2 separate regions of the Homo sapiens genome follow, and region 2 is linked to region 1. Evidence: fine-mapped expression QTL. Tissue or cell type: whole blood. Region 1 holds a variant in brackets; the other region holds the start of a gene. All regions are shown on one strand. Distances are from middle to middle.

Region 1 (16,800 bases):
AGATACTGTGCTAGATATTTTATTCATGTTTTCATTTGATGCCAACAAAAACCTAAAGAGGTAGGTAGTGTTATCCCCATTTTTCAAGGAAGGAAACGATGGTTCAGAAAACAGTAACTTGCCCCAAGTGAGCATTTAGCCTGACTTTAAAATCTGTGTTCTGTCTATTATACAGTATTCTCCAAATAGTCTCATATTATAGCCCTGATTCTAATATCCTAATAATTCATGTCAAGGAAGAAATCTCTGCTGCAGGTAATCTTGAATTCACAGCCTCTGTATCCCTTTGCAGCTTTTGGCTAAGGTAAACTAGCTGTAAACCTGAAGCATAGATAGATTTATTTCCTGTTTTCTGATTTAAGAAGAATGTGAAACCAATCATCTTGTAACCTCCTATTTAATAGTCATAGCCTCTCCACTTCTGTGGTTGGTTGTTTCTTAATGGCAAAGTCTTTTGGAGAACTTTGAAAATGTTAAGATTTTGTAATGACAAGTTTCTTCCTTAACATGAATATTTTGAAACGAAAAGTATTTGGATAACTAAAAGCCACTCTGTGCTATATCTCTGTAAGTGTAACATGTTAAGATAATCTCACCTGGATGTTTCAGGTTTCTTAGAATAAGAAAAGTAAATAAATTACCTTTTCATAGTCTTCAAAAAATTTAAAAACCTAACTGGGGCCGGGTGCGGTGGCTCACGCCTGTAATCCCAGCACTTTGGGAGGCCTTGGCTGGTGGACCACTTGAGCCCAGGAGTTTGAGAGCAGCCTGGCCAACATGGTGAAACCCCATCTCTAACAAAAAATACAAAAATTAGCCAGGCGCCTATAGTCCCAGTTACTCAGAAGGCTGAGGTGGAAGAATCACTTGAACCCAGGAGGCAGAGGTTGCAGTGAACCAAGATCATGCCACTGCACTCCAGCCTGGGTGACAGAGTGAGGTGAGACCTTGTCTCAAAAAAATAAATAAAATAAATAAATAAATAAATAAATAAATAAAATAAACCTACCTGACTGGGGAAAAATACTTTTGATTTATATGCTCCCATATCCCCAAGTCAAATTAGGACATTGGTCAAAGAGATTGGATTCCGTTTACTTTAAGCCTCTTAACTGATGTATGATCAGTCCTCAGAAGCCATTGGCCATAATGAAATGTTTTGAGATTTCAATTTTTAAACTTTGTTTCTTCCGCACATAAAACATTTTTTCTTAAAATGCAAATTTAAGAGTATTATCAGACAACTCTGTTAGTGATTATGTTTTTCAAATAAAAAGAAAGTTAAAACACTGATTAATCAGTGCTATTTTAAAAGACTTTTATTTGTCTAGTTTAAACAATTGGGCCAGGCATGGTGGCCCACGCCTGTAATCCCAGCACTTTGGGAAGACAAGTCAGGAGGACTGCCTGAGTCCAGGAGTTTGAGACCAGCCTGGGCAACATAGTGAGACCTCATATCTACTAAAAACAAACAAACAAACAAACAAACAAACAAAAATAGCTGGGTGTGGTGTTGTGTGTCTGTTTAAAATTAAAAATTAAATTTAAAAAATTTAAATTAAAAATGAGCTGGCCATGGTAATGCCAGCTACTCAGGAGGCTGAGGTGGAAGGATTACTTTAGCCCAGGATGTGGAGACTGCAGTAAGCTATGACTGCACCATGACACTCCACTCTGGGTGTCAGAGTGAGACCCTGTCTCAAAAAAAAAAAAAAAAAAAAATTGGGTTAAACAGTTGAATGCAAACAAAAAATAAGATGCATGAGACTAAAACTGGAAATCTGTAGATATATATGTGTGTATGTAAATATGCTACAGGTTGTGAGAGTTTGGTGATTTCATCTAGCATACATTTCAGTGCTCACGAGGGATATGCTTGTTGCTGTGCTGTAATGTGTAACATAGGTGAAAAGAGCAATGCAGTTGCCCAACAGTAATCCCATTTTCTTGTTTTGCAGCATGTGAAACAACAGTGGAGCTCTTGTTTGACAGTGTTATACATTTAGGTTGTAAACCATATCTGGACAGCCAACGAGCCGCATGCAGGTGTCATTATGAAGAAAAAACTGATCTTTAAAGGAGATGCCGACAGCTAGTGACAGATGAAGATGGAAGAACATACCTTTGACAAATAACTAATGTTTTTACAACATAAAACTGTCTTATTTTTGTGAAAGGATTATTTTGAGACCTTAAAATAATTTATATCTTGATGTTAAAACCTCAAAGCAAAAAAAGTGAGGGAGATAGTGAGGGGAGGGCACGCTTGTCTTCTCAGGTATCTTCCCCAGCATTGCTCCCTTACTTAGTATGCCAAATGTCTTGACCAATATCAAAAACAAGTGCTTGTTTAGCGGAGAATTTTGAAAAGAGGAATATATAACTCAATTTTCACAACCACATTTACCAAAAAAAGAGATCAAATATAAAATTCATCATAATGTCTGTTCAACATTATCTTATTTGGAAAATGGGGAAATTATCACTTACAAGTATTTGTTTACTATGAAATTTTAAATACACATTTATGCCTAGAAGGAACGGACTTTTTTTTTCTATTTTAATTACACATAATATGTAATTAAAGTACAACATAATATGTTGTTTCTCTGTAGCCCGTTGAGCATATGAGTAAGTCACATTTCTATTAGGACTACTTACAAGGACAAGGTTTCCATTTTTCCAGTTGTAAAATTGGAACCATCAGCTGATAACCTCGTAGGGAGCAACCCCAGGATAGCTAAGTGTTATGTAATATGCCTAGAAGGTGATGTGAATGCGATTCAGAAGCATAGCCACTCCCATTTTATGAGCTACTCACATGACAAATGTCATCTTTTGCTATAACCTTTGCCAAGTTAGAGAAAAGATGGATTTAATGAGATAAATGAAAAGATATTTAACCTAATATATCAAGGCACTATTTGCTGTTATGCTTTGTTATTTATTTCCCAGCACTTGTTCCTTATTGTAGATTTTTTAAAGACTGTAACCTTTTACTAACTGTGGTCTTACTAAAATTTGTGCTTGATACTGCTTTTCAAAAAGCCTTTAATTAGAGCCAAAAGGATGGAAAAGGCAAGATATAAATGCCTTTTATAGATCTCTTATTTACATTGAAAATTATTACCATATGTTTAGAGCAAATCCAAGAAAACTTCAACAGCTTCTGAAGATGTCTATGAATGTTGAAAACTTTTCAATCTCTTGGAATGCTCAGTTATGTTCCTAGACCGGTCTTTGCTGACTACTGGTTGTTAACCTTTCCCTAGCCTGGGACCTCAAGCCATATATATCCTTTGGGTGACCCATGGCCAAAGTTATTAAGATGAACTGACTTTCAAAGTCAGAGAAGGACAGCATAGGGAGAGGCGGTTATTTGTAAGTCATTACAGGTAGAACAGGGCAGAAGGAAAAGTATGTTCTGGAGAAAGGGCCATGTTCCTAACTTTGGAGATATGTCATTGCCGGGAACCTAGTATCTTCCAACTTGAATTGGTGGCAGCTGTTCCAGTGAGACAAGGCACATGTATGCCTTGTGGCTAAGTGAGCAAACTGGGTTTCCACTTAAATGTTTGGGACCCTCAATTGATTCTTTATTTCAAACCTTTATAAAAGGTACAGTTTTGTAAGCCATTATTAATAATTAATGCTTATCGGCTGGGCACAGTGGCTCACACCTATAATCCCAGCACTTTGGGAGGCTGAGGCGGTTGGATCACTTGAGGTCAGGAGTTTGAGACCAGCTGGCCAACATGGTGAAACAGCGTCTCTACTAAAAATACAAAAATTTGCCGGGCGTGGTGGCGCATGCTTATAGTCTCAGCTACTCAGGAAGCTGAGGTACGAGAATCACTTGAACCCAGGAGGTGGAGGTTGCAGTGAGCTGAGATTGTGCCACTGCACTGCAGCCTGGGCAACAGAGCAAGACTCTAAAAAAAAAATGGTTTATCAATATTTACTATTGAAATATTTGTCCAGGTAACTTTACACTTACAATGAATTCATGGATTTTGTTAGCAGCATTGGCTTTCTCAAAAGGACAAACTCAATATCGTTATAAAATATAATTCGTGATCACAAATTATACAAAAATCAGTAGAAACAGTTTTTTATGTTCAGATTAAAAAAAAAAACTTGGGATAATTTTAGATTTACAGAAAAGTTGCAAAGATACATGGAGAGCTTCTGTGACCACTCACCCAGTTCCCCCAGTGTTAACCTTTTATTTAACCATGAAGCATTTGTCAGAAGCTAAGTAACCAGCAATGGCAATTACTATTAACGGAACTTTGACTTTATTTTTCAGATTGTACTAGTTTTTTAATTAATGTCATTTTTCTTTTCCAGGATCCAATCTAGGATACCACACTGAATTAGTCGTCATGCCTAATTAGCCTCTGGTCTGTGATAGTTCCACAGTCTTTCTTTTTCATAACCTTGACAGTTTTGAGGAGTACTGGTCAGGTGTTTTGTAGAATATTCCTCAATTTGGGTTTGTCTGATGTTTTCCTCATGGTTAGAGTGGGGTTATAGATTTTTAGGAAGAATACCAGAGGTGAAGGTCCTTCTCACTGCATCATGTCAGGAGTTACATGCTATCAGCTTGATGGTGTATTAACTTTGGACACTTGGTTAAGGTAGTGTGTGTTGGTTTTTTGCTGCTGAAAATTACTGTTATTTTCCCTTTCCATACTTCTGTTCTTTGGAAAACAGTCACTAAGTCCAGTCATGGGAGGTGGTGGGTGGGAAAGATTACATTCAACCCCCTGGAAGTGGGAATATCCATATGTAGTATTTGGAATTTTTCTATATGGAAAATTTGTTTCTCCCTCCCACCCTAATTTGTTTACATCAGTATGGACTCATGTATATTTTGTATTTTGGGTAACACAGTATTTATTTTGTTGCTTAAGTTGTCCAGCTTGGCTATTAGGAGTTCTGCCAGGTTGGCTACTATGTCCCTTTGATGTGCCCATCCTTTTGATTTTTGAGCACTTCTTACTTTCTGGCACTACAAGATGCTCCAGGTTCATCTTGGATATTCCCTGCCCCAACCCTAGAATCCCTAGAATCAACCCCTGCTCCAAAGAGCCCTGGTTCCTTTTGTTGGAGAATCATACTTAGAAACCAAGATCTGGGCATTAGATGTGCTTGTTGCTACTGGGATGTCACTGTTTGTAGCAGAGTTGAGAAATATGTATGTATATTAATCCATGCATATGTACACATCTATAATTATTTATGTGTGTACAAAGCTAAACATGAGTTTGTACTGCCGTCTTCAACTCAAAATTTGTCCCAAAATTTTGTGGCATATGTTTAGATTTTAAAGTTGATATTTTCCCTATTGACAGAATAAACTCATTAAAAGAGCAAAAAAAAAAAAAAAAAAAAAAAGGCAAGAACTAACTGTCAGCAGCTCTTTGCAAGAAATGTAATATTGATACTTTAAAATAATACTGCCTTCAAATGATGCCTGTCTCTTTAAAATCTTTTGACATAGTTCTTCCAGGGACAGATATGGCTGTATTTATTTCATAGATGGAGAAACTGAGCACAGAGCTGTAATGAAGACAGAATTGAGATATAAGGGCAAAAGCTAATTAAACGCATCCTCACAGGTAGCCTTTCTTTCAGTGAACCTGTAGACTAGTCCAGTAATACTTATTAAAATTAGTTGTTAGAGGCTGGGCATGGTGGTTCAAGCCTGTAATCTCAGCACTGTGGGAGGCCAAGGCGGACAGATCACTCAAAGTCAGAAGTTCGAGACCAGCTTGGCCAACATGGCAAAACCCTGTCTCTACTAAAAATACAAAAATTAGTTGGGTGTGGTGGCACATGCCTGTAATCCCAGCCACTCGGGAGGTGAAGGCACAAGAATTGGTTGAACCTGGGAAGCAGAGGTTGCAGTGAGCTGAGATTGCACTGCTGCACTCCAGCATAGGCGTCAGAATAAGACTCTGTCTTGGAAAGAAGAAAAAAAATTGTTAGCCTAAAACCAACTCTCTCTAAATTTAAAAGAGTGATTATTTATCTTAGTATTTATAGAAGTATGAGATTATCAGAAGGTGCGATGCACAATGCTCATTATTTTATCCTAGTACAAGACACGTATAACATCTAACAGTAAAGAAGATGGAATCTTTCTATAAAAACAATTCTGTTATTAATAGTTGACTGACTTCAGTAACTTTGAGGAGTAGAATGAAACTTATTAGGCAAGATCTTTCCACATACACTACATTGTATTGTTCAAAATTCATAGAAATTACTTGCAATATATTGATTTAAGCCTTATGTAGTGACTGTTGCTATATTTGAAGTAGCATTTTTAGTTTGCTGTTTTTCCTCACTGCTTAATCCTACAAAAACCAGCCATCTGCCTAAAAAATAAAAGAGCAAAAATGAATCAGTGCAACCGGTATACGAAAAATAATAATTATTAATAAAACTGTAAAGGGATCACTAGTGTCATCTTTTATATATGTCACAATGATGTTAGACTTTTTGCCTCAGGCTTACTTATTCAGTTTCCATAACATCCTTCAAAAATCTCCTTGTTGACAACTTGACAAACATTTCTCTGTTGGCTTTCAAGTTTTAAGTATAGCAATCAGAATCATCATAGAAATTAATATTTCTATGAATTCTGTAAGAAAAAATATTAAACACCAAAATCAGTGACCAAAATTTTTAAGTTGTAGAATTATCTCTGAACTTAACTTTATTCCCTATATTTCATTCCTATGATAGGTGACAAGCCAAGACCTTCAGTTTTAATAAGTTCCACTTTTATTTATATTTTAAAATAATATATTGCCTTTGAATAATGCCTATCTCCTTAAAATCTTTTGGCACATTTCTTCCAGGGACAGAGATGGCTGTTTATTTCATAAAGGAGACATTGAGCACAGAGAAGCTGTAATGAAGACACGATTGAGATATGAGGGCAAACCAGTTTCAATAAGTCACTTTTATGGAAAACTATTCAGATATAGGAAGAATCAAGTCATCCTGTCAGTTAACTTAGTGTATCTGAATTTTAATGGATTTGCTGTGGGAATATTTTTCTTTGAGAGGGAAGAGAGTGCTTGGTAGGATTCCAGTCTATGTTGGTGGTTCTCAAACATGAGCATGCGTGAGACTCACTGGCAGGCTTGTTAAAACACACTGCTGGACCCCACCCCCAGAGTTTCTGATTCAGTAGGTCTGGGGTAGACAGGAGAATTTGCATTTCTAACAAGTTCTCAGATGATGATACTGCTGGTTCATAGACCACAGCTTGGGAAGTAGTTTAGGTAATCTTCAGTGCTGAAAATAACTAATGTACTGAAAGCTTGCTGTGGGTTCAGTACTTTCATAGGAGTTTGCAATTTACTGTCTCAAAAACTCTGGAATAGATTTGGACCTCATTTTACAACAAAGAGTTTGAAGCTATGAGAGGTTAAGTTGCATTACCTGTCACATATCTAACAGCAAATAAAATGGGGAAGCCGTGAGTAGAACCTGGGCAGCCTGTTTCCCAGTCCCAGGCACTCAGCCATTTTATTGTGGCTAGCTGTTGCTTTAAGAGGCTAAAATTATACATTTGTAATTCTGAAATAAGTACCCAAGAAAATGTTCTGTATTTATGTTTTTAGACAAAATCCTGATCAGTGGTGAATAAGGGGAAAAAAAGGTAGACAAAATATTGTTTTAAAATACTTAACCACATAGACTATAGTAGTAATGTTGAGATAATAAGATACTTATGGAGAAAAAATGACAAATTCCTTCCATCTGCTCTTTTCAGATAAGTAGAACGTCAGCCAACTGGAGTTCCACTCTTGTCGAGGGAATGTTTTCAGGACTCAGAGACCCTGAAAGTGAGGCCAAAGGACTGGAAGTTCTGGTGGTCAGATAACTCATTCAGACTGGATAAAAGCCAGAGTGTAAATGTGAAAACCCTGAATTGTAGTCAATGGCTAAATATTGAGCCACATGCAAGGCAACTGGGGTAGGTAATGAGGAAACCAAAAAATGCCACTGCTGTTTCCAACGAGTACAACAAGATGGTAATAACCAATATTCATTGAGCTCTTCACATGGCAGGCAGTATTCTGAGTCCTTCACAGTCACTTAACCCAATCATCACAACCACCATACAAGGGAAATATGGAAATTCCATGTCTTTGTTGCAGGATAAGTTACTAAGACAGTGATTTCTGAAATATTTTATGCATACAATGAACAGTAAATGGTTTGAGTAAAAACCCTTCTTTGATTTCGTACTCTAATGACATCAAGACTTGAACCACAGGCACATGTAGAAGTTACCAAATTAGATTTTTTCTCTCCCAAATAATAGTATGAGATGAGTTCCTTATACTTATTTCTTAAGTATTCATTATACTTATTTTAATATATTAGAAGTGGTGCCTTAACACATTTTAATTTTTTTCCCACTCTAAGGTTGCTTACTTTTAAAATTACAAGGTCCAGAGGAATTACAAAAGATAAAGCCACCGTTTCATCAAATCTGAAAGCATTGTCAAAGTAAATTTTTTACAATAGCCAACCACCCAAGGAGGAGCTAAATTAAATCCAACATTGAGCACCCCATGGCACCTTGTTGGCACACTGTTTGGCTGCTATTTTTGGGGTAGGACAACATGCTCTCCCCAGGAAACACCATTATCTAGAGACCCTCATCATTCTGTGAATTTCTGCATGGTTCTGTCCCTGAATTAGCTCTACCTATGAAAGCCAGATTTGAAAAATCCAGGAGAAGCCAGGTGTCGTGGCTCATGCCCGTAATCCCAACATTCTGGGAGGCCAAGGTGGGCAGATACCAGG[T/C]CGGGAGTTTGATACCAGCCTGACCAACATGGAGAAACCCCATCTCTACTAAAAATACAAAATTAGCCAGGCATGGTAGTGCACGCCTGTAATCCTAGCTACTTGGGAGGCCAAGGCAGGAGAATCGCTTGAACCCGGGCGGCAGAGGTTGCGGTGAGCTGAGATCATGCCATTGCACTCCAGCCTGGGCAACAACAGCTAAACTGTCTCAAAAAAAAAAAAAAAAAATCCAGGAGTTACCTCCAGTTTACTTTGGCCCAAGTTTCATATACAAAGAACATTTAAAATAAGTTACTGCAAGTCCTACAAAGTAACTTGCACTGGGGAAAGGACTACACATGAAACAGGAACATATATGCCACCCCCTATGGGATACCTCAGAGGGATTTCGAGTTTGGTTCCAGACCACCAATAAAAGAGTCACACAAATTTTCTGGTTTCCCAGTGCATATGAAAGTTTTTCATACTAAAGTGTAGTCTGTTAAGTGTGCAATAACATGTCTAAAAAAATAATGTATATACCTTAATTTTAAAATATTGCTAAAAGATGCTAGGGATCATCTGAGCCTTCAGCGAGTTATAAATGTTGGTGTGGGGTATTGTTGAGGGCTGCTGACTGATTAGGGTGGTAGTTGCTGAAGGCTGGGATGACTGGCAATCTCTTAAAATAAGGCAATAAGGAAGTTTGCTTCATTTTTTTGTTTGTTTTGAGATGGAGTCTCGTTCTGTCACTCAGGCTGGAGTGCAGTGGCATGATCTTGGCTCACTGCAACCTCTGCCTCCTGGTTCAAGTGATTCTTGTGCCTCAGCCTCCTGAGTAGCTGGGATTACAGGTGCCTGCCACCGTGCCCGGCTAATTTTTGTTATTTTTAGTAGAGACAGGGTTTTGCCATGTTGGCCAGTCTGGGCTCGAACTCCTGGCCTCCCAAAGTCCTGGGATTACAGGCATGAGCCACTGCACCTGGCCATCCATTGATTGTTCCATTCACTAAAGATTTCCCTGTAGCATGTGATGCTGTTTGGTAGCATTTTATCCACAGACCTTCTTTCAAAATTGGGGTCAATCCCCCCAAACCCTGCCACTGCTTTGTCAACTAATACCCTGAATCCTTTGTTGTCATTTAAACACAATTCACAGCATATTCACCAGGAGTAGATTCTATCTCAATAAACCACTTTCTTTGCTCATCCGTAAAAAGCATCTCCTCATCTATCAAAGTTTTATCATGAGATGGCAACAATGCAGCCACATTTTCAGGCCCCACTTCCAATTCTATTTGTCTTGCTACTTCTGCCACATCTACAGTGACTTCCCTCACTGAAGTCTTGAACCCCTCAACATCAGTGATGAGGATTGGAATTAACTTCTTTCAAACTCCTGTTAATGTGGAGATATATGCATATACCTATGTATAATGTATGTGTGTGTGTATATGTGTGTGTGTATATATATATATATATATATATATATATATATATATATAAAATGGATAGGTATGTTGTCCTGCCTGTAAAATACCACCCAGTGTGCCAATTGAAATATATATAATTTTTAAATATTTATATATGTATTTTATATATATTATATATATATATATATATATATATATATATTTTTTTTTTTTTTTTTTTTTTTTTTTTAAAGAGTGTCTTACTCTGTCACCCAGACTGGAGTGCAGTGGCACAGTCAGCTGACTGCAGCCTCAAACTTGGGCTCAAATAATCCTGCCATCTTAGTGTCCTGAGTTGCTGGGAATACAGGCATGTGCCACCACTCTTGGCTAATTAAAAAAAAAAAAAAATTGTAGAGACAGGGTCTTGCATTGTTGCCTAGGCTGGTCTCAAAACTCCTGGCCTCAAGCAATCCACCTTGGCCTCCCAAAGTGCTGGGTTTACAGGCATGAGCCACTGTGGCTGATACATGTACTTTTAATTTTTCGTTTTTCTTTTTTTCCCCCTCTAGTCTCTAGTTACATACCGTAAGTGGATATTTTGACCTCCCATGAATCACAAATGTTCTTAATGGCATCTCGAATGATGAATCCTTTCCAGAAGATTTTCAATTTACTTTGCTCAGAACTATCAGAGGAATCATGATGACAGCTATAGCCTTATGAAATGTATTTTGTAAATAAGACTTGAAAGTCAAAATTTCTCCTTGATCCCTGGGCTTCAGAATGGATGTTGTGTTAGCAAGCACGATAACAGCATCAGTCTCTGTACATCTCTATCAGAACTCTTGGATGACCAGGTGTATTGTCAATGAGGAGTAATATTTTGAAAGGAACCTTTCTTCTGAGCACTAGAGCTCAACAGTGGGCTTTAAATATTCTCTAAGCCATGCTGTAAATAGATGTGCTGTCACTAACTAGCCTTTGTTGGTCCATTTATAGATCATATTTAGCATAATTCTTAAGGGCACTAGGATTTTCAGAATGGTAAAGGAATGTTGGCTTTAAAGTCATCAGTTGTATTAGCCCCTAACAAGAGCATCAGCCTGTTCTTTGAAGCTTTGAAGACAGGCATTGACTTCTCTCTAGCTATGAAAGTCTTAGATGGAATCTTCTTCCAATAGAAGGCCGTTTCATATACATTTAAGATCTGTTGTTTTGGCTGGGCACGGTGGCTCACACCTGTAATCCCAGCACTTTGGGAGACCGAGGCGGGCAGATTGCTCAAGGTCAGGAGTTCAAGACCAGCCTGGCCAAACATGGTGAAACTCTGTCTCTACTAAAAATACAAAATTAACCTGGACATGGTGGCACATCCTGTAATCCCAGTTACTTGGGAGGCTGAGGCAGAAGAATCGTTTGAACCCAGGAGGCAGAGGTTGCAAAAGATCGCACCACTGTACTCCAGCCTTGGTGACAAAGCAAGACTGTCTCAAAAACAAAAGATTGTTGTTTAGTGTAGCTGCCTTTATCAATGATTTTAGCTAGATCTGGATAACCTGATGCAGCTTCTACGTTAGCACCTGCTGCTTCACCTTGCACTTTTATGTCATGAAGATAGTTTCTTTCCTTAAACCTCAGGAACCATCCTCTCTGCTAGCTTCCAGCTTTTCTTTTGCAATTCCCTCACCTCTCTCAGCCTCCATAGAATTGAAGAGTTAGGGCCTTGCTCTGGATTAGGCTTTGGCTTAAGGGAATGTTGTGGCTGTTTTTATCTTCTATCCAGACCAACTAGAACTTTCTCCATATCAGCAATAAGGCTGTTTAGCTTTATTGTCTTTTGTGTGTTTACTGGAGTAGCATTTTTAATTTCCTTCAAAATTTTTTCCTTTGCATTCATGACTTGGCTTTTCTCCTTTGCACTCACAACTTGGCTAACTGGAGCAAGAAGCCTAGCTTTCTGCCTACCAACATTACTTCCTCACTAACTTAATCATGTTTGCTTTTGATTTAAAGTGACAGGCTCTTCCTTTCATTTGGACACTTAGAGGCCTTTGTAGGATTATTAGTTGGCCTAATTTCAAAATTGTGTTTCCAGGAATAGGGAGGCCCCAGGAGGGGGAGAGAGAAGGGAAAGTTCGGTGGAACAGTCCAAACACATACAGGGCTTATGGATTAATTTCCCCTTCCTTTATGAGCGCGGTTCATGGTGCCCCAAAACAATTGCAATAATATTAAAGATTACTGATCACAGATCACAACAGCAGACATAATAACAATGAAAAATTTTGAAATATTGCGAGAGTACCAAAATGTGACACAGAGACACAAAGCGAGCCAATGTTGAAATACAGGCAGTATCTGCTAAGCGGTATAAAACAATCTATGCCTGTACCTCTAGAAAGTACAGGCATAGCAAAGTAAGGAATAGCAAATGTTTGGGGCAGCTGGGATTAAATGAGTCCGAGCTCACACAAGTGATGTGAAATTGCCTCGGGCTAGGCGGTCTGTGTGTCCCCCCGGGTGGCAACTGGCATGTCCCCAGGGCACGGTTAGTCCCAGCGGGCCTGGAGGCGAAGACCGCGTACCTCTCCCTGCCCCCGCGCTCTTGGTCCCCGCGGGCTCCGGAGCGACTGGGAGGAGCTTTAACTCTGGGAAGGACCAGCCCGATCCACGGGAGCCCGGGCGGCGCGCAATCAGAACCAACTGGCCCCACGCTCGGGGGCAGGGGGCGGGGCCGCCGAGGAAGGGCCGAGGGCGGGGCCGGGCCCGGGAGCCTGTGGCTTCAGGAAGAGGAGGGCAAGGTGTCTGGCTGCGCGTTTGGCTGCAATGAGCTCGGCCTCGGGGCTCCGCAGGGGGCACCCGGCAGGTAGGCAGGGGGCGTCGACTGGGCACCGAGCAGGTCTGCGTCTTGCTCCGGCTGGAGGGGAAACGAGGGTTAGTGGACCGGGCGCGCGGACCGGAGTGGGGCCGCGGGTTCCTTCGGCTTTGCAGGGCGGCCTGGAGAAGTTGCACTCTTGGATTGAAGCGCTCAGGGCGGGTGGGGACGGTTTCGCGCTTCAGTCTAAGAAACACTCGGGGACCTGGCTGCCGCCTCCTGGCGGTCCCGAGTAGCGACGCCGGCGCCGGGGCGTGCCCCTGCCGCCTTTGTCCTCCGGGGCGATGAGCGCTTTCGGGGCGCCCCGGCTGTTTAAACCTTAAAAGGCTGTCCCCACGCGGGCCTGGCGTTCCCCCACACCTGGCCGTTTGAAATGTTGGGGGTTGGATCTTTTGTTTGCTCACTTCGAAAAGTGAAAAGGAGGGGTTGTTCCGCCGAGTCATAATGAAAACATAACAGGCCCGCGGGGTGCCCGGGCCAAGACCCTGGGTCCTCCCGGGCTTCAGCTGGAGGCGGCCAGTTCCTGGCGGCCAGCACACCCCGGTATCTCTCTTCTTCATCCAGGAAACCTGCTGCTGTCTGTCGGTTTGAGCCAAAACCACAATAACTTTTTTCTGCAAAGTAATCAACTGCTAAGAGCGTACGTTCTGTCACTTATTACTGGTAAAGTTTAGAAACTTCAAGCCTGGCCAGAGTGAAACAAACAAAAAGGTCGAAACGCCTGCAGTTGGCCGGCCGTGGTGGCTCACGCCTTGTAATCCCAACACTTTGGGAGGCCGAGGCGGGCGGATCACCAGAGGTCGGGAGTTCTCGACCAGCCTAACTAACACGGTGAAACCCCGTCTCTACTAAAAATACAAAAAAATTAGCCAGGCCTGGGCGCAAGCTACTGGGGAGGCTGAGACAAGAGAATCGTTTGAACCCTGGAGGTGGAGGTTGCAGTGAGCCGAGATCGCCCCACTGCACTCCAACCTCGGCGACAGAGTGAGACTTCGAATCAAGAAGAAAAAAAAAAAAAAAGAACGAAACGCCTGCAGTTGGTTAGAGTGCCTTTGTTTAAGAACTCTTTATATTTTGCTGCACAAAGGAAATGGTGCTCCAGAGGCAAGCTGTAAAAGTCACATGGTCGTAGAGGAGGTAGATAGGTAGCCTTGTCCTGGAGGCACAGTGCAGGGTCCAGTTGCAGTCTCTAGGGGCGGGAAGCCGGGGCTTTCCTTCACTCACCTGCTCCCTTCCTCTTCTTCCTCCACCGCACTCCCCAGTGCATGTTCTAGGCCTGATGGAGGTTACTCTACATAGGGTTACTAAATACATTGTTGATGGAGCCGATGGGTAGATTTTCATAGAGAGTGCAGTGAATGAAGACGATGACAGTAGAATGACCGAAGTCGTTTGGGAAGTTGAACAAAGTTTAGAAAGGTAGCCGGTCTCGGGTGGGAGGGGCTGCGTGGGGATGGGCCTACAGAGACTTTGGAATCTGTAGGTGGGCTGGCTTTCAATCCCAGCTTCACTTTGCCGACCTTGGCACGCCTGGCCCACTTTCTCTGTCCCTGTTCCTGAGCTGTGGAGCTGTGAGATAAGGTATCTAAGGCATCAGGCCATCAACAAATGGTAGCTGGCAGGATTATCTGGAGGGACTATCAAATTAGAGTGAGGTGAAAAAAGGAATGATTAGTTTTGTAAAACCTAAGCTGATTTAAGGAATAAGGAGGTGGCAGTTACATTATCCTGCAAAGGAAGAGAAGTGAAAAGAGGGCCAGACACAGTGGTGGGCGCCTCTAGTCCCAGCTACTGGGGAGACTGAGGCAGGAGAATCGCTTGAAACCTGGAGGTGGACTTGCAGTGAGCCAAGATTGCGCCACTGCACTGCAGCCTGGGCGACAGAGGGAGGCTCTGTCTCAAAAAAAAAAAGTGAAAAGAGGTCAAGAATCAGGTTTAAAGAAGGGCACATTTTTGATAAGTAGATTGCAGATGAAAAGGAATTTCTATATCTGTTATACAGGGTAGCTCCTTCATTAAAATTTATTTTCTCCATATCAATAAAGCTATTTCTTACTTTATCCAGGTTTTTAAATATTAACGCAGGCCGGGCGTGGTGGCTCATGCTTGTAATCCCAGCACTTCCAGGAGGCTGAGGCAGGTGGATCACTTGAGGCCAGGAGTTCAAGACCAGCCAGGACAACATAGCAAAACCCTGTCTCTACTGAAAATACAAAAAAAAAGTAGCTGGGTGTGGTGGCGCATGCCTGTAATCCCAGCTACTCAGGAGGCTGAGGCGGGAGAATCGCTTGAACCCGGAGGCGGAGGTTGTGGTGAGCCGAGACCACGCCACTGCACTCCAGCCTAGGCAACAGAGCAAGACTCCATCCCAAAAAGATAGTAATAAAAAATAAATATTAATGCGGCATAATGATACTTAAGTGCCCCCTTCTGGAAAGCTTGTCTTCTTGGGATACACAGCTCAAGGTGGTCATGATGTGTTATTTTCTCTCAATCTGTGGGTAAAGTTTATCAACTCCAGAAAAGTATTGGAACTTAGGTCCTGGCATCTGTCTCCATAGCTTTTTGTTCTGATTCAGTGTTTGCTAGAGTGGCCACTGGACCTGGTCATTAACTGGTACTGCAGGATGCAGGGTGCACTTTGTGAGAGTGAAGGTAAGTTACAGCTGGCCAGCATCAGAATTGGGATGTCCAGAGCCTAGGTTTTTTTCTACATCCGTAGCATTAACAAACAACAACAACAACAAAAAACTTAAAAAAAAAATCCCTCACTGAGGTTGCCAAATCTGTTAACTTTGAAACTGAATGTATTAAGAGATGGGGTCTAGCTCTGTTACCCAGGCTGGAGTATGGTGACTATTCACAGGGGCAGTCATAGCACACTATGTCCTAGAACTCTTGGGCTCAAGAGATCCTCCTGCCTTGGCCTTCCAGGTAACCGGGACTATAGGCTTGCCACTATGCCCGGCCAGAACGTCATTTTAAACAGATTTTCTTGAGCAGCTACTTAATACTAGTTAGCCATTCCTAAACCTGTAGGTCTTGACTAATGTGAGGGCATATTTGAGACAACCCAAACTCACATCTTAAGTTATTAATTTTAATGTGTCAGCTAACAACTGGGAAGCTACTTCTTTGGCAATATGAGAAACAAGAGTTTTAAAGACCCAAGCAAGAATACATCTCCAGTGTTTTCACCCTGAGGGATATGAGTTAGTTTGCTGAGCAGCCATTTGGCACAGCTTCCATGAGTTAGGTTGTGAGCCGCCTTCGGCTCAGCAGTCAGTATGGAGCAGAAGCCACAGGAGGTGAGCCGCTGGCCTGCTGCCACCGAGGAGGACACTGAGACATGAGTGCTTTCCAAGTTGTGCAGAATTTTGGCATGTGAGGAGGATGGTTGTGACATATGGATTTAATTTTCTTGAAGTTATTGTTTCTTTATACTCTAATTGGTTAAAAGATAAGCAGGTGAGGTTATCAAAAGGCAGTAGATTCCGACAGCTTTTGAAAATGGGAAGAGTGAAATCCCTGTGCTGTCTTCATAGAGCAGTGTGTGGAGTAGGAAGTACCTCGTTACTGTGCTCACCTAGGGCAAAGGTCGGATTAAACAGCTTTCTCATCTGCCATGCAGCGGGGAGGACCAGTTGGAGAGGTTGCTTTTGGCTCTCACACCTTAGTGTAAAAATCACTTTG
Region 2 (16,800 bases), 21 kb before region 1:
TCCAAAAGAGCCAGAGAATTGGAGTCTACACATCTGGAAATAACGCTCACAGACCACACTGCAGGACTGCTCCATCAGAGACTACCATGGCCACTAGCATGGGTCCCAGTCTCCACGTACAGCTTGTACTGCAGAGCCTGGGCACTGGACATTGCTGCTTCTGTGAGCTCGCCTGAAGGTGGCCAGGGACACAACTCATTGGATGTGGAGCTCTGCCATCGTCTTATATTTAACCCTGGTTTCAGAGCTCTCTGTCTTACAAGAGAAATGGGAAAATAAATTATGCGGCTGCACCTTGCCAGGTACAATGGTAAGGAAAACTAAAGGGAGATCTAGAAACCAGCCTGACATATTAAAGAGGGCTTCTGCAGAGGTGAGCTTAGTCTGAATTATGGAAGAACTTTCCAGGCAGATACAAATGCAAAGGCCCTGCAGTGTGAGGAGCTAACCACACACAAGGATGGAGAGCAGTTCATAGTGACTGGAGCCCAGGGTGCAGCTAAGGAGCTGGAGAGGGGGAAAGGCCATACCAGGGAGAGCCTCATACCAAAGAGTTTGGACCATTAAAGGATTCTAGGAAGTTCAAGCTGGAGACAGCAAGGAAGATGTATTGGAAGTGGGTGAGAGAGGGTATGGAAGATGGTTAAGACACTCTTGGAGTAATCAAATGAAAAATAATGAAGGTAGAAACTAAAGCAGGGATAAAAAGGATGGCACTGACTCTAGATATGTTGAGTGAAATAGATGGCATTTGGGGACAAATAGATTACAGTACTAGGGAGAGGGATTTGAGACTAGGATAATTCCCAGTCTCTTAGATGGTGAGGTGATTGGTGTTGCCACTGAGTACAGAAAGGAAGGAAGTAGAGGAATGGAATCAGATTTAGACAGTTAGGGATATTTTGAAGTTGTGATGTCTAAGGAAGCCCAGTGAAGGTGTACAGTACGTGATAGGAAATACGAAGCTGAAAATCAACCAGAGGTTTGGAAGTAGCCAGGAACCCTAATTAGAAGAACTACATACGGACTCTGTCCTGATGGCTTAAAACCCTGCAGTCTCAACTAAGTGGGTTCTTTCCATCCCTCCTGTGTGCCAAGCAATCTTACATTGTGCATACAAAGATACCTTGAAAATATCTTTTTGATCAAATTTTCTTGATGGTAGACCCCCCACCATACCCAAGCAGAGGATCATTGTCTTCAACATATTATGGAACAAGCCCATGCTCATAGATCTGGTGCAGCCATCTCTTGCCCTTCACTTTGTCCCAGCTTGAAAGCTATTAATGCCATTGACTTTCTAGCCAAAGGCTGGAACCTAGTACTTATTTCTCTTTAACTTAAGTTCCCTTTTAGAGATGAAACTTCTAGCCTTGGTGCGGTGGGAAATTAAAGAAATAAAGAAAAATAAAATTAAAAAGAGAAAGAAGTAAGCTTTCCTGTATTAGGCTGACTCATCCCAAAGGCAGTAGCAGGCAAGGCCCAGACCCAGGAAAAAGAGTCTTGATAAACACTATCTAAGAAGCTAGGACACAAAGGAATGTGCTCTGGAGACTCTCCCAGCACTCCCTCAACATAAGGAGAAGAAAAACAAATTTTCCTTTCTCTTATAGTATGAGTTTATAGATTTCTGTTCTCTGTAACTAGCAACTTCAAGCATTCTGTTTTATCTAAGTAGTGGAGTGAAGGTCATAAACTGTCTGAGCAGGCCTGAGATACAGCCACCTGGACGCCATAGTGAAGGTCATGGAATAAGCTGTGCTAGGCACTAAAGGAAAACCTAGATAACTGACATCTGGGTTGCACAGCAACGGTCATGTGTAATCCTGAGTTATGAACCTGTCACAATTTGATTAATTGCTCTGCCTCTGTATCCTTGCTTTCACACCACTGTAACTGTAAGCCTGCTTCAAGCTAGCCCACTCCCTTTTTGAAGTGTGTATAAAAGTCAAGTGCTGTCTTTGTTCTAGGCCCAGTTTTCCAGATGTAAGTCTGAGTACACTCAATAAAGATCCTCCTGCTTTACCCCGAAGTCTCTCTCATCCGCCTGATTCCCGCGACATTGGCACTAGCCATAGATTAATCATTATGGATGGAATTGCTTCACCATGTGGCTTTTATTTTCATCCTGGACAAAAATTAACCATTATGGCTGGAACTGTTTTCACCACGTGGCTTTTATTTTCATCACAACACTGCTGAGGCCATTAGTGAGACATTGGAAAATACTAAAAAATAGAAATTGCTGTTTATCATTAATATTTTATTGATTTTTGTTATTTAAAATAACACAAAGCATTGTGTAATATTGTAGTTTCCAAGCATTCTAAGTTAATGTGGTACGTTAAACCCCACAAATTTTGCATTCTCATCTCATCAATACTACCATGTTTTTCCATGATGCTCATATATATAGAAGAAACCATTTGGTGTTTCTAGAAGAGATCTGAGATCTGACTGCCTATCCTGATTATTGTTCTGGGAAGTTCTATATAGAAAATATAGTGTAGGGCTGGGTGCGGTGGCTCATGACTGTAATTCCAGCACTTTGGGAGGCCAAAGCAGGAGGATCACTTGAGCCCAAGAATTCAAGACCAGCCTGGGCAACACAGGGAGACCCCATCTCTATAATAACAATAACAAAAATTAGCCAGTCACAGTTGTGTACACCTGTATTCCTAGCTACTCAGGAGGCTGAAGTAGGAGGATTGCTTAAGCCCAAGAGTTCGAGGGTACAGTGAGCTATGATCATGCTACCCCCACCTGGGTGACAGAATGAGACTCTGTCTCTGAAAAAAGAAAAGAAAAGAAAGCCAGTCTTGGCCACCCAGAATCTCCCATTCCAAGGTATTTATTAATATATCATTCAGACAAGAATAAGCACAAATATAGTATATTTTATATTTTCATAATTTATTTTGATATTCACTGTAATTGCATTTCTTTTCTTTTCTTTTTTCTTAGACAGACTGTTGCTCTGTTGCCCAGGCTGGAGTGCAGTGGCACGATCTCAGCTCACTGCAACCTCCACCTCCTAGGTTCAAGCAATTCTCCTGCCTCAGCCTCCCGAGTAGCTGGGATTACAGGCACCTGCCACCACGCCCAGGTAATTTTTTTGTATTTTTAGTAGAGACAGGATTTCACCATATTGGCCAGGCTGGTCTCGAACTCCTGACCGTGTGATCTGCCCGCCTTGGCCTCCCAAAGTGCTAGAATTACAGGCATGAGCCACTGCGTCCTGCCTGTAATCGCCATTTCTAATTCTTTTCTTCCTCTGACTACAACTGTGTTTTCTCCCTAGTACTTCAATGAGACTCTTGTGAAGTTCACCAATAACCCCCAAGTTACTAAATCTAGTAGTCAATATCCGGCCCTCACCTTCCTCATATCAGCAGAATGGGTGGTTCTGTCTTTCTTTGACACACCAGAATATAGCACTTTTCCACTTCTGCTGCACTTGGCTGCTCCTTCTTAAGCGCCTTTGTTCTTTTTTCCTTGACCTCCTAAGACTTAGACCTTGCTCTGCTTCTTTGTGTACACTCACTTTTTAGAGGATCTCATTTAGTCCCATGTTATTTATTTATTCATTTATTTAAGACAGGGTCTTGCTCTGTTGCCAGGCTGGAGTGCAATAGCGCAATCTTGGCTCTCTGCAACCTCTGCATTCCGGACTCAAAGGATCCTCTTACCTCAGCTTCCCAAGTAGCTGGGACTACAGGCATGTACCACCATGCCTGGCTAATTTTTGTATTTTTTTTATAGAGATAAGGTTTTGCTATGTTACCCAGGCTGCTCTTGAACTCCTGGACTCAGGCGATCTGCCAGCCTTGATCTCCCTAGGTGCTGGGACTACAAGCATGAGTCACTGCGCCCAGCTAAGCCCCATGACTTTAAAAGCCATTTCTATTCTGACAACTTCCCAATGCGTTTCTAACCTTTATGCTGAACTGCAGACTCAGAATAAGCTTCTTGGATATGGTATGACTGAAATTTATTTTTAAAATTTTCCCGCAAAACCCTCTCCTTCCACAATTCTCCCCATTTCTGACAGTTAGAACTCTCTCTATCCTGTGGCTTAGGCCAAAATTTCAATGCCATCCTTGATTCCTCTTTTTCTCTCATATTCAGTCCATCAGCAAATCCCTTCTGCTCTACCATCAAGTTACATCTAGAATATGACCACTTTTCACACCTCCACTGCTCCTTTCCTGGACCAAGCCATACTTATGCCATACCTAGATTACTGTATCATAACTGACTTCCTATCTTCAGCTTCTGCCCACCACAAAGTATATATAGACAAGCTAGCCACTCTCTAGCAGGAAAGACCTGGAACACAGCTGTGGATTTGCAACTAATGATGTCTGTCATGAAAATAACAGGTTTTGCTGGTTAGATGAAAGTGTCCTGTAAAGAAGGCTCTTTTCAAACAGTTTATGCCAAAATTTGGGAAGAAAAGATGGAAGTGGGTCATCTAGAAGTTACGTGAGATGAGCTGGGCACAGTGGCTCATGTTGTAATCCCAGCACTTTGGGAGGCCAAGGCAGGGGAATGACTTGAGGTCAGGAGTTCGAGACCAGCCTGGCCAACTTGGTGAAACCCCATTGCTACTAAAAATACAAAAAATTAGTCAGGTGTGGTGGCGGGCACCTGTAATCCCAGCTACTCGGGAGGCTGAGGCAGGAAAATAGCTTGAACCTGGGAGGCGGAGGTTGCAGTGAGCTGAGATTGTGCCACTGTACTCCAGCCTGGGCAACAGAGCCAGACTCAAAAAAAAAAAATTTATATGATATGGTAAATCAGAGCATGCATCCTGTGTAGTGGCACAAGGCCCCACAGTCAAAAGGGCTCTGTACTTATTTTAATGCTCTGCTGTTATCACCTTGAAATTCTTTTTTTTTTTTTTTTGAGACAGAGTCTTGCTCTGTGGCCTCGGCTGGAGTGCAGTGGCACGATCTTGGCTCATTGCAAGCTCTGCCTCCCGGGTTCACGCCATTCACCTGCCTCAGCCTCCCGAGTAGCTGGGACTACAGGTGCCCGCCACCATGCCCAGCTAACTTTTTGTATTTTTAGTAGAGACAGGGTTTCACCGTGTTAGCCAGGATGGTCTCGATCTCCTGACCTCGTGATCTGCCCATCTCAGCCTCCCAAAGTGCTGGGATTACAGGCGTGAGCCACCGCACCCGGCCATCACCTTGAAATTCTTAATTTTTGAGCAAGGGGCTCTGTATTTTTATTTTGCACTGAGCCCTACAAATTATACAGATAGTCTGTGGTCAGTGCAGATCCCTGGTATTTAACAGCATCAATTAAGAGGAAAACGTAAACCTTGTAATTACTGCAGCAGAACAACAAATATATAATGATTAAATGTGAAAAGAATGTGAAAATAAAACTTAGAGTCTTGTTTTCTACAAAAATGGTGGTGATTCTCATGGGGAAGACAGTGGAAAGATTTGCTTGAGAGAAAGAGAACAGCTGCATCAAGCCAGAAGAACTGGCATTTGAGAATTTAATCCCTAAGGAGAGATCAGACAAAGAAAACTACGTCTGATTCCTCAGAGTATAGGCTGTAGTTAAGGTGTAAGAAATTAGATGAGATCACAAAGAAGTAAATAAATAGAGAAAGTGGGGGAAAGGAGAGGCTTTGGGTCATAACTGAGGGCTGGAACTAGGTTATTTTATTACATTCTATCCTTTCTTTTGAAAGTCTTGTCCCTGGACTAGGGAGTTGTAAGAACCAAGCCTGGTTTAAGGATTCAGGTGGTGGTATCTCAGAGGTAATCTAGTCCAACTTTCATACTTTGGAGCTGAGAAACCAATGTTCCAGAAAGCTAAGACAATGATTCTAAGTTCCCTTTTTAAAATGTATTGAAATGTGTTGTCTAAAAATTAAAAAATAAAAATATCTGTGGTATTTTGTGAAGACAGAGGCCTTGGTTTGGAGTAGATACTGTCACATGACTTCTCACCTCGACTCTTTTATTGTAAAAGAGGAAGATAATAATACCTTCCAGGGAACATTCTTCCCCCTTCTCCATTGTGGTAGGAATTAATCACTGCCCAAGACTCCTGGTTGAGGGGCTGAGTGAAGTGCAGGCAGTCTCCAGCCAGGAGCTACACCGTTTGTTGGGCTACCCTGTTTGTAGGGAGGAATGCCTTTCTATGTTTCTAACTTGCCCAAAGTCTGCATCCTTGTAAAGTAGTGTTCTGAATGTGAGCGATCATATTCATGAAGTGCCTGGCACATAGTAAGCACTCAATAAAGAGGGATGTAATTTTTATGAACTGTGCACTGAACGTTTATTATAAGCTCATTTAGTTTGTAACAAACACAAAAGGCCAAACCTAGAACTTATTGGTAATTCTTATAGAAAGGACACACCTATGCCCAATACTTACTCACTTTCTTTTTTTTTTAGAGTCTCGCTCTGTGCCCCAAGCTGGAGTGCAGTGGTGCAATCTCAGCTCACTGCAACATCCATCCACCTCCTGGGTTCAAGTGATTCTCCTGCCTCCGCCTCCCGAGTAGCTGGGATTACAGGTGCCCGCCACCACGCCCAGCTAATTTTCTGTATTTTTGGTAGAGATGGGGTTTCACCATGTCAGCCAGGCTGGTCTCGAACTTCTGACCTCAGGAGTTCCAGGCCTCCCAAGGTGCTGGGATTACAGGCGTAAACCACCGCGCTTGGTCTGCCCAATACTTTCAACATTGCTCTGGATCTTACTGTAAAATTCTTGGAAACTGCTGTGATACTAAGATAACCAGATATTTACAACTGATACAAAGTACTACTGCAATAGTTATTTATGGATCCCGCACAATGCTGGGGGCAGGGTGGTAGGTACAGAGAAACAAACGTCACTGTAACTATCAAGTTACAAAATCCCTTGAGTAGAAAAACAATGACTTCCTTAAGATTTATTTTACTTTTTACTGTATTTAAGTTTACACTACTGTTTCTTCCTTACCAGGGGAGAATTTTATGATTTTTATGTTGGCCCATTTTCTTTTTCCGGAAAGTCTAAACTAGCATTTAGCTCGTCCTGATTAGAGTCAGGCACCGCCAAGGCATGGGTTGGCATCTTCCAGATCCCGCTCCCCCAACCGCGGCCACAGCAGATCTGGAGGACCGGGAGAGGACGCAAGGAGGAAAAGCCCTGCTCTGCGAGCTGACAGCCGGACTCTGCCCACATTGCCAATGGAACCACGTCTTCAAGCCGGAAACTCAGCTGGACCTCTCGCAGCGCTCTCTGCGAGGGGGCACAGGGGTTATTTTCTCCGATGTTGTCCACACCCAGAAAAGCTTGTCTCTCGGGGCTACTGTGCTGAGCCCCGACTGGTCAGGTTAGGCCACCGGGGTTAGCTCTGCAACTCTTGCTTCACGGTTAACAGCCCGGAGAGCTTTCTTAAAAAATACCGACGCCCACTGCCACCTGGGACAACGTAATCAGGCTCCCTAGAAAAGGGGCTCAGGCCTGGGTACTTTTTAAGGTTCTCTTGTGAACCAGGACCAAGGGTCTTGGGAGGGTGCCGCGGAGACCACGTGGGCATGGAGGCCCCGCCCCCGTTTCCCGCCCCGCGCGCCCCTCCCCCGGTTCCCCGCCCCCCCCAACCCCGCCCCCGCCCCGCCCCACCCCTGCGCGTCCCGCCCCTCCCGTGCGCCGCTGACGCGCCGTGCTCCGGCGCAGGCGCACAGGGGACGGTTGCTGGCCCAGGTGAGCGGGCGCGCTGGTCCAGGTGAGCGGGCGCGTCCCCGCGACGGCGCTGCCTGCCCGAGGCGGTTCACGTAAAGACAGCGAGATCCTGAGGGCCAGCCGGGAAGGAGGCGTGGATATGGAGCTGGCTGCTGCCAAGTCCGGGGCCCGCGCCGCTGCCTAGCGCGTCCTGGGGACTCTGTGGGGACGCGCCCCGCGCCGCGGCTCGGGGACCCGTAGAGCCCGGCGCTGCGCGCATGGCCCTGCTCTCGCGCCCCGCGCTCACCCTCCTGCTCCTCCTCATGGCCGCTGTTGTCAGGTGCCAGGAGCAGGCCCAGACCACCGACTGGAGAGCCACCCTGAAGACCATCCGGAACGGCGTTCATAAGATAGACACGTACCTGAACGCCGCCTTGGACCTCCTGGGAGGCGAGGACGGTCTCTGCCAGTATAAATGCAGTGACGGTGAGGGGGCACCCGGGCCCAGCGAGGGCTCGTGCTTTCGGGGGATTGGGGTGACGGAGATCCTGGAGGTGTGAGTGACAGATGCAAGGCAGACCTTGACGGTGTCCTTCGGCTGTGGAAAAACTTAACCACTGCTAGAATCTTGCCGTTCTAGTGATTGAGCAAGCTGGGTACAAGTTCGCACCACTATTGTTAGAATGTGAGAGGTCACATTCTAACGGAGAGGTGTACCCCCCGTCCCATTTGCATTGCTTCTGAATTACCTTTTCCCCCCCTCAATTGCACCAAGTTGCCGAAGAACTTACTGACGTAGGAATCATGGGAATAGAGTGGAACAGACTGGTTTTAGCTCATTTTTGCTTCTGTAAATTGGATGAACATGCGAAGCAAACTGAGAATTTAAAAACCATGCCGTATTAACTTTCTCTATAATTGATATTAAATGGTTTTTTTTCTGCAAACCCATAGACAATAACTTGCGACCTTTGTACAGACTTTTGGTGTACTCGAGTGTTGAGAAAGGGTTCCGATAACTCTTCTTTCCTTAGATATCAGTGACCCGCCTCCTCCTCATTGTTGGTTAACGTTAATACAGTTATCTTCATTTACTCTTTTAATATTTTTTGAACTTTCTCTTTGAACCTGAGAATTTGTTTGGTGGCGGTATGAGTACTAATCAACTCAGTATTTCAGGCAGAGATAGTTCTTTTGTAGCACATTTTTGAGTGCTTAAATATTTTAATAGGTCAGAAAAATATTGGACTTTTGTTTGGAAATTGAAAATGTTAAGAGAGCAGTTGGGAGATCATGTTTCCAATAAGATTAGCCAAGGTTAGAGTCTCATTATGCTGGCAGCGGAAAATAATCGGGGATCCAGTGACTTCATTGTTGGAACCTGATTGTATAGGTGAACTTAAAAGGAACTGGTATCATGTAAACCTATGATGCCACATGCTGCCTGCAATTTTCAAGATAATTTCTAGTTTTATGTTAATAGAAGTAAAGGATGAACTGTATCTTGTATACTTTAAAGCGCTGAACAGGTGCTGAGACATGTTGCATTGCTTCTTAAATTTGTGCCTAAACGTTACCACCTAAACGTATGCTTCATGAAGATGTTTTTATTCTTGTAGAACTTGTTCGGAGGATTAAGTGCATAATTTAAGGATCAAATAGTTGCCTTTCCTAAAGCAAATGTTACAGTTTTACTTAGTCATTCCTATTCATTATACAAATATTTGAGTCCCAACTGTGCTTCAGATGTTGTTCTAATTTGAGATTCAGCAGTTAATAAAACAGACAAAAATCTCTGTCCGTGGAGCTTGAGTTCTGGTGAGGGAGAGATGGGCAGTAAACTAGTAAATAAGTAAAATTAGGGGAAGTGTGGAGTCTGATCAGGGCAGACGAGGGGCCATGTTGGAGGCAATTTACTCTTCTAAATGGGTTGTTCAGCAAAGGCCTCACTGATGAAAGAATATTTGAGAAGAAATCTGCACGTGGTAAGGGGAGGGAATGTGGTTATTTGGAGAAACAGCATTCCAGACAGAGGGAATAGCAAGTGCAATGGACCTGAGGAGAAAGGCCAGTCAAGGATGACTCTGAAGGTTTTGGCCTGAGCCAAAGGAAGGAAACGGTTGCCATTTACAGAGATAGGGAAGACTTGGAAGGAGTCGTCTTCATAAATTTATTAGTCTAGGGTTCTAGAGTTTATTTACATTTAAAACATGCCTGAAGTTGAATGAATACCAGCCTTGTTAAAATACTGTTTTAGTCTTTTTATTTTATTTTTTGTTAATATTTTTGAGGCAAGGTCTCCCTCTGTGCCCAGGCTAGAGGGCAGTGGTGTGATCATTGCTCCCTGCAGCCTCCAACTCCTGGGCTCAAGCAATTCTCCTGCCTCAGCTTCCCAAATAGCTAGGACTATAGGCCATGCCCCCACTACACCTGGCTTAATCTTTCTTTTTAATCTTTTTCATCTTCTACAGGCTTCTCAAAATTTACTATTTGGAGTTTAGAGGAAGGTCTCTGGCACAAAAAAACACAAAGGAATTTGAGAATTTAAGAAATGTTATATGCCTCAGTGAAAAAAAATTTTTTGTCTTAGTAAGTACTCTACGTTTAACGGACATGTGGTTTCAAGTCCAAGTCACCATACTGATAGATAATTGGATCTCAATGAAAAAAAAAATTAGGCAGGACGTAATGGCTCATGCCTGTAATCCCAGCACTTTGGGAGGCTGAGGCGGGCGGATCAGTTGAGCTCAGGAGTTCGAGACCAGCCTGGCCAACATGGTGAAACCCCGTCTCTACTAAAAATACAAAAATTAGCTGGGCATGGTGGTGCACACCTGTAGTCCCAGCTACTTGGGAGGCTGAGGTAGGAGAATAGCTTGAACCTGGGAGGTGGAGGTTGCAGTGAGCCGAGACCGTGCCTCCAGCCTGGGTGACAGAGCAAGACTCTGTCTCAAAAATAATAATAATAATAATAATAATAAAATTGCTGTTACTCGAGCAGTCTCTCTGGAACAATTCAACCTTTCCTATATTTTGGAATTCAGGTGACCAAATCAGAACCAAACAGAACAATCCCAAATCTGGAGAAACATGGTGATTAAGGGGTATTTTTAGTTGCACGAAAGAGATCAAGAGAGCTTTAAAAAAAAAAAAAAAGAGTGAGTTAATGGTAGGGAGAGGTTGGTCAAATAAAGGGCACATGTCCTTGCTTTACCTGAGGGACTGGCATTATGGAGACTTGCTCCCTTAGTTTTGGCCATCCTCTCTTGGGTAGGAAAAAGGCCTTATTGAGAGTTAAGTATTTAGGGAAATAAATTTGATGATCCGTTATTTTCTTCAACTTTTTTCTCCCTGACAGCAAGGAAGATTTAAGGAAGAAAACTTTTCGATTTCCTTTGAAAAATAGAACACAAAACTGGCTTGTAAATGTTTTTAGAATGATGAATAAGTCATTAATTAATTCAGTGACGTATGTTTTCTAGGATCCCTCTGGCTGTTGTGCTGAGAACAGAAGGGGTCAAGGGAGTGGGGGAGTAAAAATGGAAGCAGGGTGACGCATGCAGGAGTCCAGACAAAAGACGGGTGATTTTGCTCAGGTTGGTAGCAACAGAGGTAATGAGAAGTAGTTGGATTTTGGATATATTTTGAAGGAAGGACCTAAAAGATTTGCTGATGGCTTAGAAGTTAGGTATGAGTTAAGTCAAAAATGATACCACAGTTTTTGGCCTGAACAACTGGAAGGACAGAATTACCATTAACTGATATGGGGAAGACCGTGGAAAGAACAGTTTTCGGGCATTAGGAAAAATAATAACACATTTGTATGCTTTTGAGAATGGTTCAGTGGAGAGTAGAAATACTGACGAGGGAGAGAATTATTGGAGTCATAGCCTTGGGTAAGTGAGAGGGGGTAGTTTCTAGTACATACTTAGAGAGTTTGGCCAAGAGCATATAGCATAGCCCTGTTAATAGGAACACAGGTAGAGGATATGAGCACTGGTGCTGGTTAAGTGGGTGGATGTTCAAGTTCTCCTGATTGCCTGCTTTTTTCAGTAAAGTAGGAATCCAGGTCATCAGCTGACAGAGAAGATGGGGAATGGGGATGTTGGAGATTTGAGGAAAATATAAAAGTGAACAGACTAGAAAAATAAAGTAATATAAGGACCTTTTGGAGATTAATGATCATGAATACTTAAAGTCTCAAGTGTTTGGGAGTGCAGGTTGGAATCTTACAAAACTCTGCCATGAGACCTTTGTGTGACCCAGCAGACTACTTCTTGTGCTTGTCATCTGCTTCATATTCTGTCAGGTGAAAACAGTTGGTCTATCTGGAAGTATTTGCATCAAATTTAGAAAAAATACATGGAAAATAATCAACTTTGTCTCAGTCTATGAAAATCTTTAGATTTCTGCAGTCCATACAAATGATAAACAATCAAGAGAAGGAGCTATTGCTTAAGTCAAAAATGGAAATTAATGAATAGTCTTTCCATGCAGTTGTACACAGTGGATTTGGTTTGTATCCGCTTACAAATTTTAGAGGACAATGGCCGCAACACATCATGGTGTTTTGATGTTACTCTGATTTTGTTTCTTCCATTATTGAGTTTTTGCTTTATTTGTAAAAACTGGCACCAGTAGAAATGCTAATTTTTAAAATGCTTAGCCATTTATAAAACTATAACAAAATTTAAAATATTAATACATTTGTAACATTGGTGTCTGAATCAACTTAACCTCTAATAAAGAACTGTCTATATAACTTGCCTTGTTCAGAAATAACTATTTTAATTTAAAGGTGAATTTAGAATTTCAAAATACTTTAGAATTTCTCAGGAAACTAGTTACTTCCAAGTTTTCAGTTTTTTGCTGTGGATAAAGAATTATTTTAATTTCATCAAAGAATGTTTCCCATTTTTTAATCTGGTAATTTATTGGGTGCCCACTGTGTGCTAAATATCTTCTAGGTGAGCAAGACTAAGTCCTTTCTTCATAGAAACCGACTAATGTTAATGTTAATTAGGTCAATAAATGCTAGAAAGAGAGGGGGTGCTATTTTAGATTGGGTAAGCAGGGAAAGCCTCTCTGAAGAAATGACATTAGGAGTTTGCCTTGAAAAAAACTAAAGAACCATACACATATGCCCCTTTTGCCATTTACACTGGGGAGCCAAACTTTTTACCAGCATTTATTTCATGGTGTTATTATCCAGTTTTTCATGTACAGTAGATGTTGGCTCTTTATTACTTGATTTTTATCAACTTTTCTTCTTCAGACAGTTATAACCACTAGCCCTGTTTGGCACAGCAGCCTCCTACTTCCTTGTACCTCCATTCTCATTTTTGCCAGTTGTCCTTCTCTGTACTATCTCTTCCTCTTTACTCTCCTATGGTGGGCATGTTTTTAGTTTTTCTGACTTCATTTGTGTCTGATCATTCTCCCATTCAAAGGTAATTATCTCTTATGAGAAAATGTCTATATATGTACACGCATGCATACACATATATATGTATCACTGTCATTACACACATCATCAGCATCAGGAATGTTTTTATAGATTTGAAATCAGAGTCTATGGATTTAGATAAAATACAAAAGGAAGGAAAAATAGAAGTACTGCTGTTGTATGTACATTGAGGGAAGTATCTTTCTGATTAAAAAAAAAAGGCCGGGCGCGATGGCTCACGCTTGTAATCCCAGCACTTTGGGAGACTGAGGCAGGCGGATCACCTGTCAGGAGTTCAAGACCAGCCTGACCAACACGGAGAAACTCCATCTCTACTAAAAATACAAGATTAGCCAGGCATGGTGGCGCATGCCTGTAATCCCAGCTACTTGGGAGGCTGAGGCAGAAGAATCGCTTGAACCCAGGAGGCAGAGGTTGCAGTGAGCTGAGATCATGCCATTGCACTCCAGCCTGGGCAACAAGAGCAAAACTCAGTCTCAGAAAAAAACAAACAAACAAAATAAGACAATTGAGACACATGTCTTTAAAGCCATAGGCCCATATCGGTTGTCTGAGGGTGGTAATCTTTGCTTCTCATGGAACAGGGTGAGGTGCCAGAAATCTCTAGACTGGCAGATGGGAGGGAGGGAGAATGTACAAGGTGTCTAAAAAGTTGGAAACATAGGATAAACATTATGTTTTATTTTCAAATGACACACTCAATATGTTTTTCATTAACCACTAGACACTTTTTTAGATGATATACTTCTAAATTTAAAACAGTCCAGTTGTTAACCTGAACAATATATATTGTAAATACACTATTATTCCTGTTTCCAGACTTTTTGAACATTCTCTGGTGTATTTATTGTACTTTTTTCAGATTAACAACTTGACCTATTTCTTAGTGTGTATCTCTAGATATGTTTCTAAACATTTTGAACAGTTGATTGTCAAAACCCCTGACGAAAGAGAGTTTCATGATGAAGCTTGAGGAACTAGAATGGGCTTCCCAAGAATTAAATGCTGATCCAGCCTCCTTTTCTGTGAAGAGATTTATAGTGTGTTAGGGCAAAGAAAACTATAGATAAATGTATAGTTTCTCATGATACTCCTGTGAGAAAAACTGGTTACTATTTGATGACTTCACGGCTGCTTGGAGAGAGGACTCATCTGTAGTGGACCTCTGTCCTGATTAATATCTGCATCTTAAGTTTGTGAATATCTGGGAGCAACAGGCAACACTGGGTGAATAACTCTAGATTTAAAAACTGCTCAGCAGTCGAGAATGGTGAACTGAAACTAACAAGATTGAATCTTATATACAATCTTATATTTAGACTCAAAATTAAATTGCAGAAGTGCTAAGCCTCTAGCAGTAAGTATTAAAAAGTCCATTTTAGAAAGAACTGATGATTTTTTTTTTTTTACTACTGTCTATGTTAGCAGTCAGGCACAGCTGAAACATACTGTGTTAGGCTGTTTTAATACAAGTACTTTATCCAGCACAAAAGGTTAAAAAGCCCATCTTACCCTACAGTGTTCAGTCTGAGGTGCTGTATTTTAAAGAGATGTGACAAGCTAGAAGTCATCAGTCTTTGGAGGCTGGCTGATGAATGCTCACCAAGCCCAAAAGAGACTCTAGGGCAAACAGCAGGGTTTCTTAACGGATAATCTCCATTTATAATGAATATTCCAAGCCTTCCAAGTCTTCTGTTCATTAATTCATCACATACTTATTGTAAAAATTCATCACAAAGTTATTCCAGGCACTGTTCTAGGCATTGGGAATCCAAAACACAAAAATGTCTGCTTTCGAGGAGTTTACATTTTCGGATGGGGAGACATAATAAAATAGGTAGATTAGTGATATAGTATGTTAGAAGGTCATATGTGCTACAAATAGTATGGTCAGGGAAGACTTGCTGAGAAGGTGAATGTCTTAGTCTGTTCAGGCTGCTGTAACAAAATGCCTTAAACTGGGTGGCTTATAAACAATGGAAATTTATTCCTCAGTTCTGGAGGCTGTGAAGTCCAAGATCTAGCATTTGGCAGATTCAATGTCTGGTAAGAGTCCACTTCCTTGTTCATAGATGGCACCTTCTAGCTGTGTCCTCACATGGTGATGGATGGGGCAGGGCAGCTCTTTAGGGCCACTTTTATAGGGCACAAATTCCATTCATGAGAGATCTGTCCACATGACCTAATCACCTCCAATAGTCCCACCTTCTAATACCATCACATTGGTGATTAGGTTTCAACATGAATTTTGGGGTGATGCAAACATTCAAACCATAGCAGTAAAGGAGAAACTAGTGTCAGGAGAAAGAGCATCCACATACAGGAAGAGCAGGTTCAAAGGCCCTGGGACAGGAGCAGACCTGCAGTGTCTGTGGAACAGCAAAGAGGAATAGGTTGAGGAAGAAAGGAAGAGAGACTAGGAAGAGGATGAGGTCAGAGAAATCATGGGAAGACCAGGTTATACAGGGTTTCATAGGCTTTATAGACTTTGGCTTTTGTTCTGAATAAGATGAGAAGCCATTAAAGCGTCTCTGAGCAGAAAAAGACTTGATCTAACATATTTTAATACGATCATTTGTGCTCGGTGTTGAGACTGGATTATGGGGGTTGGTGTGGAGCAGGGGAACCAAAGTAGGGCAAATAGTTAGGAGTTTATAGCAATAATCCATTGTGGCTTGGAGCAGGATTGGTAGTAGTGGAGGTGGTAAGAAGTGATTAGATTCTGAATATTTTGAAGGTAGAGTCAACAGGATATACTGTTGGATTGAATGTGGGGTATAAGAACGTAAGAACATAAGCAAAAATGTCTGACATTTTTGCTCTGAGCATCTGGAAGGACAGAATTACTGTTAACTGAAAACAGCAAACTGTGAATGGAGCAAATTTGAGGTGAATGTCAGGAGGGACAGCTTAAGTTTGAGATGCCCACTGGACCTTCCTCTGTAGGCCCTTGTAAGTAGGAAGCCAAGTCATAAACTGTTTTCTTAGGAATGAAGGACTGGGCCGGGCATGGTGGCTCATGCCTGTAATCCCAACACTTTGGGAGGCCGAGGCGGGTGGATCACGAGGTCAGGAGTTTGAGACGAGCCTGGCCAACCTGGTGAAGCCCCGTCTCTACTAAAAATACAAAAATTAGCCAGGCCTGGTGGCACACTCCTGTAATTCCAGCTACTGGGGAAGCTGAGGCAGGAGACTCACTTGAACCCAGGAGGCAGAGGTTGCGATGAGCCAAGATCGCGCCATTGCACTCCAGCTTGCTGGGAGGCAAAGCGAGACTCCATCTCAAAAAAAAAAAAAAAAAGAATGAAGGACTAAAAGTAGGCGATGAGAGTTGAAGGATCATGGTGACTCATCTGTGATAGCCTGAGTCATCTACCCTCATCTTCCAAGGGTCCAGAAACAACCCTTCCTTATGGACAGGGCTGGAGAAACAAGACGAAGTGCTATCATTGGCCTTCCCTTTTCTAGACTCATCTTAACCATTCCTTTTTGTATACATTTTTCCTTTAGAGCAGGCTGTAGGTTTTGTTTTTGTTGTTACTGTTTTTTGAGACAGAGTTTCGCTCTTGTTGCCCAGGCTGGAGTGCAATGGCACGATCTCGGCTCACCACAACCTCCGCCTCCTAGGTTCAAGCGATTCTCCTGCCTCAGCCTCC

The links. PIP is the estimated chance that this variant, and not a neighbour inherited with it, causes the effect.
Region 2: PLA2G12A starts here. The variant in region 1 is fine-mapped to the expression of PLA2G12A in whole blood (TOPMed, PIP 0.93).

Annotation. Positions count from the first base shown.
Region 1 is chr4:109,699,654-109,716,453 of GRCh38, reverse strand. It overlaps PLA2G12A (phospholipase A2 group XIIA), which reads left to right. Exons shown (of 4, transcript NM_030821.5): 4 at 1,959-6,465. The coding sequence ends at 2,077. It overlaps CASP6 (caspase 6), which reads left to right and starts at 13,009. Exons shown (of 7, transcript NM_001226.4): 1 at 13,009-13,098. The coding sequence starts at 13,059. RefSeq lists enhancers at 12,588-12,637, 13,528-13,587, 14,348-14,407 and silencers at 12,798-13,087, 13,238-13,347. The variant T/C (reference allele first, on the strand shown) is at 8,839.
Region 2 is chr4:109,720,965-109,737,764 of GRCh38, reverse strand. It overlaps PLA2G12A (phospholipase A2 group XIIA), which reads left to right and starts at 7,695. Exons shown (of 4, transcript NM_030821.5): 1 at 7,695-8,163. The coding sequence starts at 7,956. It also overlaps a transcript of CFI not described here. RefSeq lists enhancers at 6,701-7,577, 8,237-8,306 and a silencer at 7,567-7,906.